Linked DNA regions of Homo sapiens: region 2 is linked to region 1. The links come from fine-mapping of genetic effects on gene expression. A gene starts in region 1. The other region holds a variant in brackets. All regions are shown on one strand. Distances are between the middles of the regions. Region 1 holds the start of NR2C2 (nuclear receptor subfamily 2 group C member 2). Region 2 overlaps NR2C2 (nuclear receptor subfamily 2 group C member 2).

The links. PIP is the estimated chance that this variant, and not a neighbour inherited with it, causes the effect. A credible set is the group of variants that fine-mapping cannot tell apart.
Region 2: its variant is the best candidate, but not a certain one, in a credible set for the expression of NR2C2 in non-classical monocytes (Schmiedel 2018, PIP 0.58).

The regions. Positions count from the first base shown.
Region 1 is chr3:14,944,252-14,953,698 of GRCh38, reverse strand. It overlaps NR2C2 (nuclear receptor subfamily 2 group C member 2), which reads right to left and starts at 6,116. Exons shown (of 14, transcript NM_001291694.2): 1 at 5,793-6,116. FGD5-AS1 (FGD5 antisense RNA 1) reads left to right here and starts at 5,258. Exons shown (of 2, transcript NR_046251.1): 1 at 5,258-5,686; 2 at 7,545-9,447. RefSeq lists enhancers at 4,212-4,899, 5,254-5,453, 4,900-5,587, 6,276-6,965 and silencers at 5,054-5,113, 5,504-5,923, 5,944-6,013, 6,064-6,493.
Region 2 is chr3:15,015,685-15,025,131 of GRCh38, reverse strand. It overlaps NR2C2 (nuclear receptor subfamily 2 group C member 2), which reads right to left. Exons shown (of 14, transcript NM_001291694.2): 4 at 8,878-8,980; 5 at 4,200-4,379; 6 at 1,785-1,932; 7 at 924-1,017. Among named protein-coding and RNA genes, the nearest start is that of MRPS25, 45 kb to the left of the region's middle. RefSeq lists an enhancer at 1-104. The variant G/AG (reference allele first, on the strand shown) is at 4,958.

The DNA of each region.
Region 1 (9,447 bases):
TGGTCTTGAACTCCTGACCTCATGATCCGCCTGCCTTGGCCTCCCAAAGTGCTGGGATTACAGGGGTGAGCCACCACGCCTGGCCATACGTGAATCTTTCTTTTTAAGGAACATGGGTGGGCAGTCAGGTAGGAAACTTTTTCCCCTGCATAGCTTTTATCAACATATGAACAACAAAGGTAAATAAAGCAGCTCCCTGTAAAACCAGGAAGCCTTCAGGCTTGAGTCTAGCCCTACCAGCCTCTCATTTCTCTTCACTTTTCAGCAGCAGTCACCCCATTTTCCAGGCCCCAAGACCTTTTCTCACACCTCTCACTAACGCAAACAGGGGGGAAATATTCTTTTACACTTGGGCACTTGGAATGAAATTCCTCTCCATCTACATGTTAACATTTCAGGGATTAGAATCTTTGAGGTAACTGTTAATAATTATGGAATAGAAAGTTTCACCTCCTATTAAAGGACTTCAGGCCTCTTATTACAGTGAAGGAGGTACTTTTTATTGCCCCTAAAAAATCACACTTGCCTCTGAGGCTGACTTTCATCATTACAGGCCAACTGGAGTCCAAGGGTAACACAGAAAAAACAGTTAAGTGTCTGAGCTAGCCTATTCCCTTTCTGTCCTTAACAATTCACCTCCCATCCTTCTATTCTAAGACTTCCAGGTACCAGGGGTCTGCATCTGCATTTATTGTACCTTTAACAAATGCCTACGCCAATGCCCTGATCTGGCTTTCATCCCTCTAGTCATTCCCACTCCTCATCATTGTTGAGCTGTGCTAGTTGAGCTGTTGTTCTTGGGCAGTTCTTCCTTTTGGTATAGAGCTCCTGCTGCTTTACTCTCTAGCACTCAGGACCTGAAGTGAGCAAGGGGAGTAGGACTGCTACCTCGGGTAGCAATAGTGGGATATGGGGAAAGAGTGGCAGGATGGGAGAGAATGACAGAGAATCTCAGCCTCTGGCATATTAAGTTGAAGGCAAGCAAACCTCCAACGAATAAGGAAGAACATATCTTTTACAATGTGTAACAGGAGCACAAATGTATCCATTAAGTTAAAGATGATGATCACACAGGGAAGAAAAAAGGCATCATTTAAGGCCCTCATAATTAGCAATAAAGTAAAAAGAGGTAAACGAAAATCTAGCAGGGGATCCTTACATCAAGGCTGGACTTGGGGTCTAGACCACTTCCAATTCTGAGATTCTAAGATTCCTTCACGGACTCCCCCCGTGTGGTATTTTTTAAGATGATACTTGTACAGGAGATGGTTTGGGACTAAAGGAGCGTATGGCTTATAGGTAAGAGAACTCAACAATAAAAATCCCAACGGAGGGCCCTCGATATGTGGAGACACTCAGGCAGCTAGACACAGACCAGTGGCTCAGTGCCACGGCTGAAGACAGGGCTGCTCCACAAAGACTCACCTCCCTTGTTCTCAAAGTCATTCAGACAACAAGTATCCGCTATCCCTGGCCCCAATCTCAATGCTGGCTCCCACCTCCCTGTTTGACAAATGGGGAATTATAAGCCTCAGAGAGGCTACCAACTCCAGGTTCTGAAGCCAGGCCTTTCTGCCTTCATAGCCCAAGCTCTGTCACTGCACTGCCCTTGCCATGTTACTCCTTGGAGACAGATGCTAAAAACTTCCCAGTTGCTGGGCGCAGTGGCTCACACCTGTAATCCCAGCACTTTGGGAGGCCGAGGCAGGCGGATCACGAGGTCAGGAGTTTGAGACCATCCTGGCTAACATGGTGAAACACCGTCTCTACTAAAAATCCAAAAATTAGCCAGGCGTGGTGGCGGGCACCTGTAGTCCCAGCCACTGGGGAGGCGGAGGCAGAAGAATGGCGTGAACCCAGGAGGCAGAGCTTGCAGTGAGCCGAGATCGCACCACTGCACTCCAGCCTGGGTGACAGAGCGAGACTCCCAAAAACAAAAAAAAACACACAAAAAAAACTTCCAGCCATCCTCATAAAGTGAGGAGGTTGTTACGCACAGGGATTTTCTATAAAAGAATGATCACGAAACAAAACTTAAAAGTCACTGTGAATACAACTACTGAAAGCAATAAATAACTTAACGATGTAAGACAACATATAGCTGTTTTACTAAACTAGCAGTTCTTTGGTTACCCTGAGTAATTAGCTTAAGGAATTGAACAAGTGATACCAAAAATCTTTGAGCAAGACAGAAAAAAAAACCCAAAAATAAACAGTTAAACTATTATTATTTTTAAAATACCATAACAATATCTTATTTTAAAAGTTTTACAATATAAAATAAGTTAATACAAATGTTTTATTTACCACACTTTCGAGTAGAAACTTGATGTATACTTAACAAAATTTGCTTTTAACCTTGGTAAAGCAATTAAAAGGTGATTTTCAATAATTTCATTAAATGAATCAATTTATCTTTAGAAAGATAAATATCCCGAATTAATGGCTACAGAGACTTTCAACTCCCAATTCCCTGTGAACCCACTGGAGGCTTGTTCCTTCTCTCCAATCCCCTGTGATGGTGAGACAAAAATCAGAATATTTGATTTCAAGAAAATCATGGTAGCTTAGTGCTTCGTTTCTTCAGCTAAAGTAAATAACATAAGTTATGTTTGGGCTATTTATTTCTTCACATATGAACTTATTAACTTTCATGCACTTAAACTTGTAATTCAATCATAAAAAAATGAGTGGGAAAAACTATTGAAATGGGTCATTTTATCCATATTTATGTCTCCAGAAAGTGGCATATCTGTCAGAAATCACTTGCTAAATTCAACCAAATACCGTAACAGGCTTATTATTGCTGGCAGTGCTATCTGAATTGCCAAAGAGGCTCACACAAAAGGTATCCATCAATGTACAGCAACTTAGTTATCAGTGACATCATAAATTATCAACAATTCATTCAACAAATAGTGCCAGGCACTCTTCTAAGTGCTGGATAAGTAATGGTAAACAAAATGTATTCCTGCTCTCACAGCTTACAGTGTGGTAAGGACAGACATTAATCAAATAATCACATAATAGAGTGTGTAATTATAAAGTGAGATAAAGATTATAAAGAAAAGAATAAAAAGAATCTGATTTAGACTGGCAATGGGAATTAGGACTTCCCTGAAGAAGTGATGCTTGAGCCAATATCTGAGGTAGGGTGGGGGTGGGGGGTAAGCTTACACTGTAAGCTACACTGGTCAAGGAAGTTGAAGGTAGGCCAGTGTGTCTAGAGCACAGGAAGCTAGGGGTACCACAGATAAGAAAATAATGAAAAGCCTTGGAAAGGTTTTTAAACATGGAACAGGAAGCCTCTGCCATTACGTGGGTTCTAGTGGCGCCTGAACAACATACTGCCTGTAAGAGAGTTCTGTAAATCATAAAGCACCCTATACTTTGGTTAGTACTATTTAGTTCCATTATTTTGTTTTCCAAACTTTTGTCCTGGATGCCATGTAACTAGCTGCAAGCACAGAGCCAAAACTAGAATCTCGGTGTTCGAATCTATTGTTTTTGCCCCTACACCACACTGCATAAAAATTTCATTATTTATATCACTTAATTAGTCCAATGTCTATACCAGTAGTTCATAATGACAACAATAACTCTATTTACACAGTATTTGCTACATGTCAGGCACTTTTCTAAGCTCTATTATTTACATTAACTCATCTAATCTTCAGTTCAGGAAGGAAGGCTCTATTATTGTCCAGATGAGGACAGTGAGGCTAGGAAAGGTAGCTTACACAAAATCACACTGCTAGTAAAAGTTGGGGAGTTGCTAACCACAACACTAAAACATTTTATGTCTGTGTATGTATGTGTATAAATATCTCTATCTCGAGAGAGAGAAAGAGAGAACTCACACACAGAGAATTATATTCAACTCCAGCCTGGGCGACAGAGTGAGACCTTGGTCTCAAAAAATAAATAAATAAATAAATAAATCATATTCACATGTTTGAGGACCAGTGTCTTACTTTTTTGTATTCCCAGCCTAGCACATAGTGCCTGGAGTATTCGTAGCACTCAGGAAATACTTGATGAACTGAAAATGTATATAAGAGGCTGACGAAGGATTTGAATCTGGAAGTAAAGTGAGTTTCTGAGGCCCTCCTCCCAAGTCATGTATTCATCAGTAATTCATATGAAGGCTGTATTTTCCTCGACTTTCTTATTACATTGAAGATTTGTTCCTCACTACCGTTGCTATATTTCACAGCCTTTGGCTTGGAAACAAAGTGGGATAATGGACAATTACTAGTTCCAACCAACTCTCCAGCCACAAGCAGCCAGTTCTCGATCACATCAAATGCTCTTCCTCCAGGGCCGTTACACGGGATGTCCTGTCTGGAATGCCATTCCTCCCTTGGGTTCCTCTGTTCAAACATCACTTACTCAGAGAGGCCACCCTGACCATTCCATCTAAATTAACGCCTCAGGTCTTCTTCAGCAGGTCATTTGGCTTCTTTTCTTTCACAGAACTTATGACTCTCTGGAATTATTTGTCTATTCACCCCCCAGCCCCCAACTCTAGTGAGGGCAGGGGTCTTGTACAGCTGGTTCTCCAGATGTGTCCCCAGTGCCTAAAAAACTAAGTCAACATGTATTCAGCGAACGAATGAGAAGAGAATCACTCCCGAATTGTGCTCTCTCAAACCCCAAATACCCTTAACGCTTGCCTCTCCTGGTGGCTGTAATCCCATTTTTAACAATAACACCATTTTCAAGTGACTCTGAAGCTCGCAAAGTAGCGTTGCCTCCATTTTCTGAGTAGAGCCCCACAAACAATGCTCAGAAGGGAGGTCCGGCCTGGCAAGAATGCGCATGCCCCCCATTTACAGTCGATAAAATTGAGCCTCATTAGGGGATTCGCCAAGGCCGCTGCGAAATAACGAGCAGGAGCCCTGAAAAGTGTCCTGGTTCCGAAAACCTCTTCCCACGAGAGCGCATCGTGGACTCGAAATGCTTCATCACCTTTATTACTATTGTTCCTCAGTACTCATTCGAGACGCGTTCCAGGCGGAGGGAAGCAGCCCACCTGCTGACCCAAGACCAGGCGCCGGCCTCTCCACCCGGCCGCGCCCCTCGCGCCCCGCCCCCGGCCCCGCCCCCGCCGACCCGGCCCCACTCTTCGCCCCGGCCTCTACTCCCGCCCCGCCAGGGCTCCCGCGCCCCATAAGGACCACCCTCTTCCGCCTCAGCCAATCAGCAAAGCTTAGGGGGGCGGTGCCACAGGCCCCGGCCCTCCTATCTGGGCGCCAATTAGCCAGCCCATCCGTCGCTCACGAGGTCGCGCCTCGCACCCGCCTTCCTCCTTTTCTTTTACCCTCCCCTTCAGAAAAAACGGCGGTTGGGCTGCGACGGCCGCCAAAGGCGGACTAGAAGCGGAGGGGTGAAAATCCCGGCAGAGAAGGAAGAAGGGACTGCAGGCGGGAGGAGGAGGAGGATAAGGAGGAAGGGAGCCCGCCCAGCCGGAGCCATCTCCGTCGAGAACAAAATGGCGGCGCTGGCGGAGGGCCAACTATAAGGCGGGGCCGCGGCCATTCCCCCTCCACCCCCACCCTTGCGCCGGCCGGGCCGGTCAGGGGGAACCCGCTCGCTTCGCCCGGCCGCGGGCGGGGAGGGGAGGGGAGCGGCCCGGCCCACTATGCAAAGCGCCGGGCGCCGCCGCCGCCACCCCGTGGCAAAGGTAAAAGGGTCGGGTTCAGCCGCCGCCGCGGCGCCTCCATGTCCGCGCGCCAGGCCCGCCCCCTCCGCCGCCGGCCCGAGCCCGCCCGACCCTCTTTCAATTTTACCTCAGGATTTGGCGCCAAAGCGGCCTCGAAGCGGGTCCCGTGTCTGCGGCGGGCGGCCCCCGGCGCGGAGGGCAGGGCGCGGGGAGCCCGGGCTCCCGGTGTCGGCGGATGGCGGGAGCCCGGGGGCCGCGGGCTCGCGGGGCAGCGGGCGAGAGACGAGACGCCGAGGTGGGAGCGGGGTGGCGGGGACGGGCCCGGGGGCGCCGCCGGGGTCGCGGAGAAGGGGGGGTTTGTTATTGTTTTTGTCAGTGAAAGGTCAGAGTTCGTGACCCCGGTGCCGCCGCCGCCGCCGCCCGCGCGCTGGTAGGAGGAGGGCGAATGTTCTTCTTCCTCTTCCCAGCGCCAGCCTCGCCGCCGCGGCGGGGGGCGGGCGAGAACGCGATTGGCTGAGGCGCGCGCGCGCACCGGAACGCCGCAGCCGGCGCTCGGTCCATCCGGCCCGTGGGCTGTGGGGCCCCGGGCGGCGGCGGCTACGTAGCTGCCGCCGGCCTTGGCCGCGGCCGGGCGGGCGGATATGTGGCTTAAATGGCGCAGGCGTCGGGGCCTAGAGGCTGAAGGGCTGGTCGTCCTAAAAACTCGTGGACGTCGCGCACGGTTACCCGGACGCAGGCCCGCCCCTCTGGGGAACCGCGAGCTCCTCGCAGCTGGGTGGGGACCGTCCTCGCAGTGGCGGCCTCCACCCTGCCTTCTCGCTTAGCCAAGGCTTCTGGAAGGCTCGCAAAGTGTCTGTTGTTGGAAGAAGCCGGGCCCTGACTGGCGCGACGGATTCTCCCAGCCGCTCAGCAGAGCGTCTGTAGGTCGGAAGTGGGGGTTGTATTGGGTGGGTATTGAGCTCTTCGGCCCTTCCTCGGTACTGATAGTTTTTAATTTAGGTTTTAAAGGTCTAAAGATGCGCCCGTTCTGGCCATCTCAGGTGAAATGTTGAAACGCCCCAGAACCTATAATTTTTGGTTTCTTAGTAAACATACGATCCAGATCTTGTGTAATTCCATGCCCCTCCTCCTCGAAATTTGGAAGTAGTACATGGTAATAGGGATGTGTAAAGCAGCTTTTAGCAGCATTGCTTAAATTTATTTGAAGAAATTGGCCTGTCTTGCTCTTAAACTCTTGGGCTGTAGGTTTTCCTTACATATTTCTCTGTTTTATGTCGTGGTTTTGACTTGCCTGGGAAGGTGCAGGCGCTTATTTATCCTAAATGCCCTGAAGTGTTTAGGCTACAGGCTGTAGATCTTATACTGATTTTTTTTCTTCAGTTTTCTTGCTTATTAAGAATAAATATTGACTCCAGAATGGATGGGTTAACTTTTTTTCCCACACAGTATCCATTTGGGTTTTTATCAGGATGACTCCAACATTTAGTATTTTTTTTTCCATAATCTTATAATATTTCTATTTGGTAAAAAATGTTTTAAACACAGCTATTTCCCCTTCCTCCTTTTTCTGACGTTGCAAAATTGGGAAAAGAGCTAGGTTCGTTTTGTCATGGTAAAGCACAGCTCTTGAAATTGGAAGAGGCCTTAAGGGAATGTGGTCAAATTTTTTTCTTGCAGAAAGATTTTCCGATTTTAGGGGTGAAGTGGGTGAGAACTAGAAAGGTCAAGTGATGTACCTGAGAGGCAAAAGCAATTGCGTTTTTGCATTTTTGAAATTTGCTGTTTGATATTGGAATACATTCTTAAATAAATGTGGATCATTTTAATGCACATTTCTCACTTTATTTTTTTGCTAATGACTTATTGCTGTTTATTTTAGAATATGCTTTTTGTCTAATGATGTTAGATAAAAAGCAAATTTGGAGCAGTTTTCTTATTCGAGTTCAAAATGGTTCATAAAGCAGCGAAGACAACTCAAAACATCAGTAACACATTTGGCCCAGGAACTGCTAACAAACATACAGTGCAGTGGTGGCTTAAGAAGTTTTGCAAGGAAGAGAGCCTTGAAGATGAGGAACGTGATATGGGCCATGGGAAGTTGACAACGACCAATTGAGAGCAATCATTGAACTACATGAAAAATTACAGAAGAACTCAGCGTTGACTATTCTACGGTCATTAGGGTCGTTCAGCATTCGAAGCAAATTGGAAAGGTGAAAAAGCTTGATAAGTGGGTGCCTCATGAGCTGAGCGGAAATCAAAACTATCGTTTTGAAGTGTAGTCTTCTTTTATGCTACGCAACAACAAACCATTTCTCAATCGGATTGTGACATGTAATGAAAAGTGAATTTTATACAACAACCAGCTCAGTGGTTGGACCAAGAGGCAGCTCCAAAGCAGTTCCCAAAGCCAAACTTGCACCAAAAAAAAGGTCATGGTCACTGTTCGGTGGTCTGCTGCCCATCTGATCCACTACAGTTTTCTGAATCCTGGTGAAACCATTACATCTGAGAAGTATGCTCAGCAAATTGGTAAGATGCACCGAAAACTGCAATACCTGCTGCCTGCATTGGTCAACAGAAAGGGCCCAATTCTTCTCCACGACAACACCTGACTGCGTGTCGCACAACCAGTGCTTCAAAAGTTGAAGGAATTGGGCTACAAAGTTTTGCCTCATCCACCATATTCACCTGACCTTTCGCCAACTGACTACCACTTCTGCTAGCATCTTGACAACTTTTTGCAGGGAAAACACTTCAGCATGGTGCAGAAAATGCTTTCCAAGAGTTCGTCAAATCCTGAAGCACGGATTTTTATGCTACAGGAATAAACAAACATTTCTCATTGGCAAAAATGTGTTGATTGTAATGGTTCCTGTTTTGATTAATAGAATATGTTTTAGCGTAGTTACAATGATTTAAAATTCGCAGTCTGGAAATTTAATTTTTGCATCAACCTAATATTTCTATGGTAAATCCTTGCAAACATGGAAACAATGCATTTGGCCCAGTGCTTTGTGGTTGTGTACTCTTTTTCTTTGTTTTTTTAATAGATGGCATTGGCCGGGCATGGTGGCTCATGCCTGTAATCCCAGCATTTTGGGAAGGTGAGGTGGGTGGATCACCTGAGGTCAGGAGTTCAAGACCAGCCTGACTAACATGGTAAAACCCCATCTCTACTAAAAATACAAAAAAATTAGCTAGGCGGGGTGGCGGGCATCTAATTCCAGCTACTTCATGAGGCTGCGACAGGAGAATCATTTGAACTCGGGAGGCAGAGGTTGCAGTGAGCCGAGATCACACCATTGCACTCCAGCCTGGGCGATGAGCGAAACTGTCTCAAAAAAAAAAAAAGTTGGGGTCTCGCTGTGTTGACCAGGCTGGTCTCGAACTCCTGGCCTCAAGTGATCCTCCCATCTTGGCCTCCCAAAGTGTTAGGATTACAGGCGTGAGCCACCACACCCTGCCTGGTTGTGTACTCTTTTAAATACTAAGTTTTTAATGTTAAATGCTGCTTTTAGATACACTGTAAAAATACACCTATCAATGAGTTTTTTTATTAAAAACATTGCAATTGTACTAGACTTTAAATACTAAGCAATAATTCAGGCTTCAATGTTGGTTTATAGTTTTCTCATTTCTTTCATTTAATACCTCTGTAAAATGAAGCAGTTACTTCCATTTTCCTGAGGTGAGATAAGTGCCCTGCACAATGTTATAGGCCCAGTAAGTGAGACTGGAGCTCTGATCTAATCCCTTTGACATTAAAGTTTGTGCAGTAA
Region 2 (9,447 bases), 71 kb before region 1:
TGTGCTGCTGATAAGCTAAGCCCACGATGCGTGATCCATCAGCTCCCATCATGCATGTGGCCCCTGCCCAAAGACAGAAGGTGCAAGGCCCAGCCTGAGGACCAAGGCATGCAGGGCAGCTCTCCATGACAGGCAAGGGCTCTAAATTTTGTCTTCTCTTTCCCAAAAGAGGATGCCCTGTAATGCCCTGAGTACACCCATGAATGAGACTGTGAACAGATGAGGAGGAAGCCTGCAGGCCTTGCTCTGGTTCTAATGGTTGCAGCAATGCCAGTGTTCTCAATTACCAAGTCACCCTCTTAGAGTTGTGGCTTGCTGCTACTACTTCCTCATTACTTGGTTTACATCAGGAGCACCAGGATGAGACAAACAGTGAGTTCCCTGGCCTGGAAAAAATCCCCCTCCTTGGTTATCTTCACAGGAGCCAGCAAGTCTCCCCCTTTTGGACTGACGAACATCTCTGTCCACAAGTTAAATCCCTATGACTGATCTGCTCTAGCAAAGTTTTGGAACTGATAGATTCCTGGCTGAGCTTCCTCCTGAAGATCATCTAATAAAAAGGAACCCGGGGCTTTTGCAAAAAGGCCATCTGATAAGTATTTCTTTCCTTGGCTAGTAGTTTGCCAATGTGTATAAGAGAAAAAGAAAACTATAACAGAAAAGAGAACCACTGAATGTCCACCAAATTGACATCTAGACTGACATGTTACAGTGATTATGACCAGCCAGCTCTGATCTGAGAAGCCATCAGCATCTCTAAAACAAATCACAAGATAGCTATCACAACAATAAGGAGACCGAGACATAGGTCATGCTTTTGATGTGGTCTCTGAAGGCCAGGAAGAAAGTGGTGCACACAGTTAGAGAAGCAGCCTGCAATGTCAACATAAAGGATGAGAGAGAGCATGAGTAGAGAACGTCACCTTAGAATCCGTGGCCAGGAGAACTGTACCATCCTCACGTATCAAAGGCTGCTGGATGTTCACAAGCATCCCTGGATCAAGAAGACCTGTTTGTCTATTTAAGACATAAAGAAACTCAGAGTAGCTTCCAACATTTTATGCACAGTATGATCATGCTGCATTTACCTGTCCTTCCACATTTGTGAAGCTGTCTGAATAGTAGAAAAGCTCTAAGTAGACTCAGCCGCTTAGTGACTAAGCAGAACCCCCACCCCTGTCTCTCTGCAATGAGATATACATAAAGTCAGGTTTACAGCTTGAGACAGGATGAAATGCAGATGCATCCCCCAGGGCTTTCCAGGATGACTGCAGACTGTGGCCATTCTGCCTAGAAAAGTTAACTTGATTTTCAGAAAATCAGCAAGGCATCCTCAACTCCAGCTCTCTCTCTGATACATTTTGGATTGCTTGTTTTCCCCTCTTTCCGTTCCTTTTAAAGTAAGTTCAATAGATTATATTAAAAAGAATATACAAATTAACTGTAGCACTGAGACCTTATCTCACCTTGGGCCTTTTGTGTGTACTGCAGAAATGCCCCAATCTTGAATCATAAAATAATTGTCTTCCGTATGAATGATGCCTAAATTGCAGGACATAATCTGAATTCAAGGCTAGGAGAATTTCTGACCCCTTCATAAATCAGGCATCCTCAGGCCTGTCCAGAGGTGTGACTGAGCAGCTCCAGAAGGGGCAGAATTAGGCAACACAACGCTGGAGGCTATGGCAGATGGGTGGGAAGCCACAACAGTGCCTGCTGTGGGACACGTCTGTGCCTCCTCCATCAGCTGCAAAGGCTGATTGCAGTGAGAACAAGGGACTGACCTTGCTCCATCTTTGTCTGCCACAAACGTGGGAGTAGCTATCAGGGGACTTCTCAGGTCTTTCCGGATATAGATTTTCTCAGTTGAAGCAGCACAATTGCTTGGTTTCTCCCGTTGCACATCGAAGGGCTTCCGTTCACTCTGCACAGCTTAAATCACAACATAAATATTTGTGTTTAGAGAAACAATTCCAATCAATAAAAACCACAAGGGAAAACCCCAAATCCATTACTGCAGGGAGGATGACTCTGGTGCTAGGTTCATCTAGCTCAGCTTTCACAGTGGACTTTTCGGCCAGAGAGAAGGAATAAAGCCAAACCATGCCATGTCAAATCTAGAGGCATAAAAAAGACCTCACGATGGGTGGTATTCCCTGCTAAAAAAAACTGCAGCACAGCACCTATGTGGCCTATGGAAGCACCCATGAGCCTTCTGGGCCATTTTATTAATTTTATGCTATTATTTTATGTTATTATTTTATTATTTTTTGTAGAGATGAAGCCTCATTATGTTGCCCAGTCTGGACTCATCCTGGGCTCAAGCAAACCACTCGCCCCAGCCTGCCAAAGTGCTGGAATTACAGGCATAAGCCACCGTGCCCAGCTGGTTTTTACTTCATGCTGCTAACAAAATAGACTCTTTCAAGGATAAAAAAATGCCCATCTTTGGGCCGGGGGTGGTGGCTCACGTCTGTAATCCCAGCACTTTGGGAAGCCGAGATGGGTGGATCACTTGCCCAACATGGCAAAACCCGGCCTCTATTAAAAACACAAAAATTAGCCAGGTGTGGTGGCAGGCACCTGTAATCCCAGCTACTTGGGAGGCTGAGGCAGGGAGAATTGCTTGAACCTGGGAGGCGGAGGCTGCAGTGAGCCAAGACGCGGCACCACTGCACTCCAACCTGGGCAACAGAGCAAGACTCTGCCTCAAAAAAAAAAAAAAAAAAAAAAGAAAGAAAAAGAAAAAAGAAATGCCCACCTTCAAGTGGGCCCTTAATAGAATGCATTTCCTATGCCACAATTTGTAGAGGAACCCTTCTAATTTCCAACTCAAGTCTGAATAGCTTCTGCAAACTGTTTAATGGGTGTCAATTTTATATTATGCTAGCAAACTCTCCTTTTAGCAGTCTAATGTAAGAGCAGATATGCATGTTAGAAGCAACTGAAGAAAATGAAAGCTTTTTAAAGACAAAACTGATGAAGGTCAGGGACTAATATTCAGATATGCTACTAATCAAACTGCTATCCAGTTGAATATTGTGTTTGCAGCTACAGCTGTGTTCACAAGAAAACTGATTTCAGTCATTGCTCTGAGTAAAAATATTCATCATTGAGAAAAAGGACAGCTTGGCAATGTGGGCCAGTCCCACACCAAGTCAGTGATTTATTTATTCACTTTGGGCAAAGAGCAGTATCATTAGATAAAATAAAAACATCACACCAGGCAGAAATTAGGTTGATATTTCTAATTTCTCAAAAAATACATTTCCATTTATTCTCCAGTGAATTTTGTGGATTCCTGTTCCCAGAAACGTCAACAGCAATACTGAAATATATTGGTTTTCAGAGTTCCTAGAAAACTATGCAAAAGATGACAGAACCATGCAGCATACTCAGCGGAAGCCTGCAGTCCTGGGTCCTCGGCCACCAGCCTTGCCATGCAAGTTGCATGCAAGTTGCATGCCTTGCTCTGCTAAGCTCCATTTTCCTACTGTGGCTTAAGCCTAACTCCACTCTCCTTGGATTTCTTTGTGCTGCCCATCTTGAGTCCTGGTCTTCATGTTTTCACCACTAGCTAGGGAAGTGACCTCCATGCTGACTGGTCCCTGAAAACCCCCAAAATTCTGTCTATGGGAGTGGAAAGGAGGGGCCTGAGACCTTCCCTGGCTGCCCCACACATCCAGGAGCAATAGCTTTCTCTTTAGAATCCCAGCTACACAGAGGCTTGGCAAAGGACCTTATCCCAAAAGAAAGTAGAGGGGCTAAGAAGACAGGGAGTAGGCTCATGTAATCCTCAGGAGCAATATATAAGTAAGGTGATTAAGTAGATCACAGATGAGGACCCTGTGGCTGAGAGGCTACGTGTATCCTCAGGCATCATAGCTCTCTCTTAGTGGCACACCTGGAGGTAGATTTGGTATCAGCTTTCCTCCAAAGCCTGTGTTCAACCCACTCCACTAAGCTGCCTCCTGATGCATCTGTAATAAGGCTTTCCACACACACAGCAGGAAGAGACCAACCCCTGCAGCGTTGGCTCTCAATCACCTGGCTGACCCATGAGGTAAACCAAAATGAAGCCTGAGTGCATATTTTTTTCTTAAAGTATTTTAAGGCCAGGTATAGAAACCTTATTTAATGGACTCATTTACTGTCTCCCTCCACATTAACTCATGTGGTTTTTAAATATTGTTACTCACATTCCATTTTCATGCCCATCTCTAAGCATTTTTTCAGCCGGCAAAACTGACAGCGGTTCCGGTGATGTTTATTGATGATGCAGTCTTGGTTGCTCCGGCAGCTGTAGGTCAAATTTTTCCTCACACTCCTTTTGAAGAAACCTTTGCAACCTTCACAACTGACAGCCCCATAGTGACGGCCTGAAACAGGAGAAAGAATACACAAATATTTTGTGACTATATTTGTGGATTCACCAAAGAGGTGATCTGTCAGTTCCTGTGCAAGTCTCATTGAAGTGATGGGTGCCATACACTGTTAGATGCCAACAGCCACGTGGCCTGAGCATTAAGCATACTGGCCACACCCTTCACGTAATTTCTCTACCATCTTTCAAGTAGCCTTATGAATTCATGATGGAAATACTGAAACTCAGACAGGTTATATGACAGCTGGCAGATGGCATGACCTTAGTGCTCTTAGTATACAAATGGTCTAACATACAGTAGGAGCTCACAGGTGACGGCTGAACTCTACTGTCCACTTGAACACACCTGGGTCCTATTCCTGGAGATCTGGGCTTGTGATGCGGCTCAGGGCCCCTGTCCTGCCACGAGTGGCACATAGCAAACACGTGCATGTGTGGCTTTGGCACAGAGGGTCTCACTCCTGCATTTAGCCCCTCTCTGATTCACGTCCTGGGCCCGAAACCTCCCCTGGGGAAGCGGGATAGTCACAGGGAGAAGCATGGGGACTGTCACTGCCGAAGCCCACAGCAAAA[G/AG]AGGATTACCATATGGTTCCACCTGGGCTAGCCACTCAAAGCCTTCTAGAAACACAGTTCTAGGAATGCATTTATTAAACACAGTCCATTTTTCTAATCTTGTTTTACTTTGGTGTCTCTTTTTATTTCTGATACATTGTAATTGTCCATGTCCATATTTATGAGGCATAATTTGATATTTCAATATATCCACGTTGTATAATGATCAAATCAGATAGAGTGACCATCACCTTATGCATTTATCATTTCTTTGTTAATAAGGACATTCAAAACCCTTTCTTCTAGGTATTTTATAATATATAATACCTTATTGTTAGCTATGGCTACAGTGCAATAGAACACCAGAACTTGTTCCTACTACTTAACTGTAACTTTGTACCAGTTGGTCAGTCTTTCCCAACTATCTCTCACTTTTCCCCTCCTGAGTCTTGGTGCCATTATTCTACTCTCTGTTTCTATGATATCAATTTTTTTTTTTAAGGATTCCACATGAGTGAGATCGTATTTGTCTTTCTGTGTCTGGCTTATTTCATGTAACATGATGTCCTCCATGTTCATCTATGTTGTCACAAAGTGCAGGATTTCATTCAGTTTTATGTATTCCACTGTGTTACATACCACATTTTCTTTATCCATTCATCCGCTGTTGGATACTTAAGCTGATTCCACATCTTGGCCATTGTAAATAGTCATGCAGTAAGCGTGGGAGTGCAGATATTTCTTCAACATAATGATTTTATTTCCTTTGGATATGGATCCAGTACTGAGATTGCTGGATCATGTGGTAGTTCTATTTTTAATTTTTTGAAGAACCTCCATACAGTTTTCTATAGTGGCTGTACTAGTTTACAATCCCACCAACAATGTGTAAGTGTTCCCTTTTCTCCACATCCTCCCTAGCACTTCTTTTCGTCTTTTTAATTGTAGACATTTTTTCTTTTCTTTTTTTTTGAGACAAGAGTCTTAGTCACTCAGACTGGAGTGCAGTGGCCATGATTTCGGCTCACTGCAACCTCCACCTCCTGGGTTCAAGTGATTCTTGTGCCTCAGCCTCCCGAGTAGCTGGAATTATAGGTGTGCACCACCACACTAGGCTAATTTTTTTATTTTTATAAGATTTTATAAAAATAAAATCTTTTTTTTTTTTTTTTTTTTTTTAAGACAAGAGTCTTGCTTTTGTCACCCAGGCTGGAGTGCAGTGGTGCGATCTTGGCTTACTGCAACCTCTGCCTCCCAGGTTCAAGCAATTCTCCTGCCTGAGCCTCCCAAGTAGCTGGGATTACAGGAACCCGCTACCACACCCAGCTAATTTTTGTATTTTTAGTAGAGACGGTTTTACCATGTTGGCCAGGCTAGTCTCGAACTCCTGACCTCAGGTGATCCACCTGCCTTGGTCTCCCAAAGTGCTGGGATTACAGATGTGAGACACCGCACCCTGCCAAAAAATATATATCTCATAAAAATACAAAAATCAGTAGAGATGAGGTTTTGCCACGTTGGTCAGGCTGGTCTTGAACTCCCGGCCTCATGTGATCTGCCCACCTCGGCCTGCCAAAGTGCTGGGATTATAGGCATGAGCCACTGCACCCAGCCTGATTATAGACATCCTAACTGGAGGTGATACCTCATGTGGTGATTTGCATTTCCCTGAAGATTAGTGATGTTGAGCATTTTTTCATATAACTCGGCCATTTGAATGTCTTCTTTTGCGAAATGTCTATTAAGGTATTTTGCCCATTTTAAAATTGGGTTACTTGTTTTTTTTGCTGTCGAGTTGTTTAAGTTCGCTATATGTTCTGGGTAGTAACCCTTTGTCAGGTGTACAGTTTGCATGGTATCTCCAACTTTTAATTATCAATGACATTAAAAAGTGCCCCTGGCTGGGCAAGGTGGCTCATGCCTGTAATCCCAGCACTTTGGGAGGCCAAGGCAGGCAGATCACAAGGTTAGGAGTTCGAGACCAGCCTGGCCAATATGGTGAAACCCAGTCTCTACTAAAAATACAAAAATTAGCCAGGCGTGGTGGCAGACACCTATAGTCCCAGCTACTTGGGAGGCTGAGGCAAGAGAATTGCTTGAATCTGGGAGGCAAAGGTTGCAGTGAGCCAAGATCACACCACTGCACTCCAACCTGAGGGACAGAGTGAGACTCCATCTCAAAAAAAAAGCGGCCCCTCCTTCAGTTTAGCTTTCTTATTCACAAAGTACTTTCACATACATTATGCCCACTTGTTTCCAGCTGAGACTGACCATGGACATGCTCTTCTGATTCTGTCTTGTTTGTATAATCCAATTTCATAGCTACATTGCCAAGGAGGATACATTTCACAGGATTACCATTTATGGTGGCTACAGAGAATCCCACTGTTCTAAGCTCTAGTATGCAAAACCATTTCCCAAGTGTGCATCTGGAATAACTCAGTCTTTTTCTTTTAAGAATAGTTGTGGTAAAGTGCCTTCTATAATATTGTTTTTCCTTTCTTTGCAGTATATTTCCTTGAGTTCTCTATCCCTTTGAGTGACACTAATATCAGGAGACAATGGCACCAAGAGCCTGTGACTAGGCCTTTCCTTTAAGCTCAGAAGAAGACTGACAAATGGGGAAGCCAAGCAGATTCTATGGCCCTTTTGTTACGTTCATGCTTCACTCATTTGTTCAGAAGTTTGTAGAGAGCCTTTCCTTGCTGAGCAAGAAGACAGGAATACAGAGATAGATGGTAAGACATGGTTTTTGCTCTGACATTCTGATGGGGAAGACAGGCCTGTAAAGAGTGAATTATATGAGTATGCAACAAGTGATTAATCTGTAGGAAAGGGCAATCAGAATCACAAGCAGCACTGTCTATCTGCCTACTGGGGTAGGTGAGGGCTTCAGAGAAGGGATAGGATGGGTTGGGTTTACCAGGACAAAGGGCGGGAGCAGAGGCAGGCACCATTGGCAGATAAATGGTGTCACCAGCATGGAAGGGAAACTGGAGCTTCTGATCTTCTGTAGATGCTTGCTTGGGGCTGTCTTCCTAAGAGGCTTGGTCCAACCTCCTTTTTAAAAAACAAAACAAACAAAAACCAGGACTACAGTGCCCAAAGTTCCTGTGAATTTTGTGACCACAGAAGAAAGTGGAACCAAGCAGCCATCACAGAACACAGGCCTGTGCCCCTGGCATTCCTGGTACTGTGTTCTTGTAAAATACTTCTCCATTCCTTCCTGTCTGCCTCACTAACCTTCTATGGATCCCCAGTACAAGCAGGCCAGCACTTGAATTTTTGGGCCAGACATCTTCTTCAGTCTCACTTTACCCAATCGTAATCACAGAAGCCTATGAGCTCTCTCTCAAGGATACCATGGGTATTGATCTTAAACTCTAGGCCCTGGCTCCACTTGCTGGAATGCCCTCCTCCTGCTCCAACCAACATGTACACAATTACCAAGGCTCCCAGGTGCGACTGCCTCTGTGGGGCCTTTCCTGACCCTGGGACACTAGCTGGAATCACATGCCTCCTCCTGCTTCATTACAGCAGTTATTTACAGTGGGTTATAGTGAGGGGATGTTAAGAGATAGTTACAGTTAGGATGAAGGGGGATTATACAAATTATACACCTTGTAAAATAGCCAAGTGCTGTACAAATGTTAACAAGATTAGACAATGAGTACTTTCTTAGCAGCACATAAATACTACACACTCAACCAAGATTTACAAATCACAGAAATAATTTCTTGACTTTTCCTTTTGATGTCTAATTTCTGACAAACTACCTTACTTATTTACATCATTACCCCAATAAGAAAAGTAGAATTCACATGTGAAACCTACAAACGTACATAAAATGGTCCTTCTAAATTAACTACCACCCCACCTCACAACAGTTACTTCATGCTGTTGGCCCATTATAAGTGCCAGCATAACCTGGAACTACATACCGGAGGCTTTGTCGCCACAGACCACACAGTACTCTACCACCTGGGGCCGCTGGACGTCCGTCTTCCCCAGTAAACGCTCCACAGAGGCAGAATCCGTGACAATCTGAGAGAAATCAGGAAACGAACAGGGGTGCCAATTAAAAATCAAATCACTGCCGGGCACGGTGGCTCACGTCTATAATCCCAGCACTTTGGGAGGCTGAGGTGGGTGGATCACTTGAGGTCGGGAGTTCGAGACCAGCCTGACTAACATGGTGAAACCCTGTCTCTACTAAAAATACAAAATTAGTCAAATGTGGTGGTGGGTGCCTGTAATCCCCAGCTACTCTGGAGGCTGAGGCAGGAGAATTGCTTCAACCCGGGAGGCAGAGGTTGTAGTGAGCCGAGATCGCACCACTGCACTCCAGGCTGGGTGACAGAGTGAGACCCCATCTCAAAAACAAACAAGCAAAAACCCAGATCACTAAGCAAAGTAATGTTTAATTACAAATTCTCAATGTTGGGTTTTTAAGCAGAACTCTGGACAGAACTGGCAAAATTCCAGAAGACAACTTAATCTGACACCCAGAA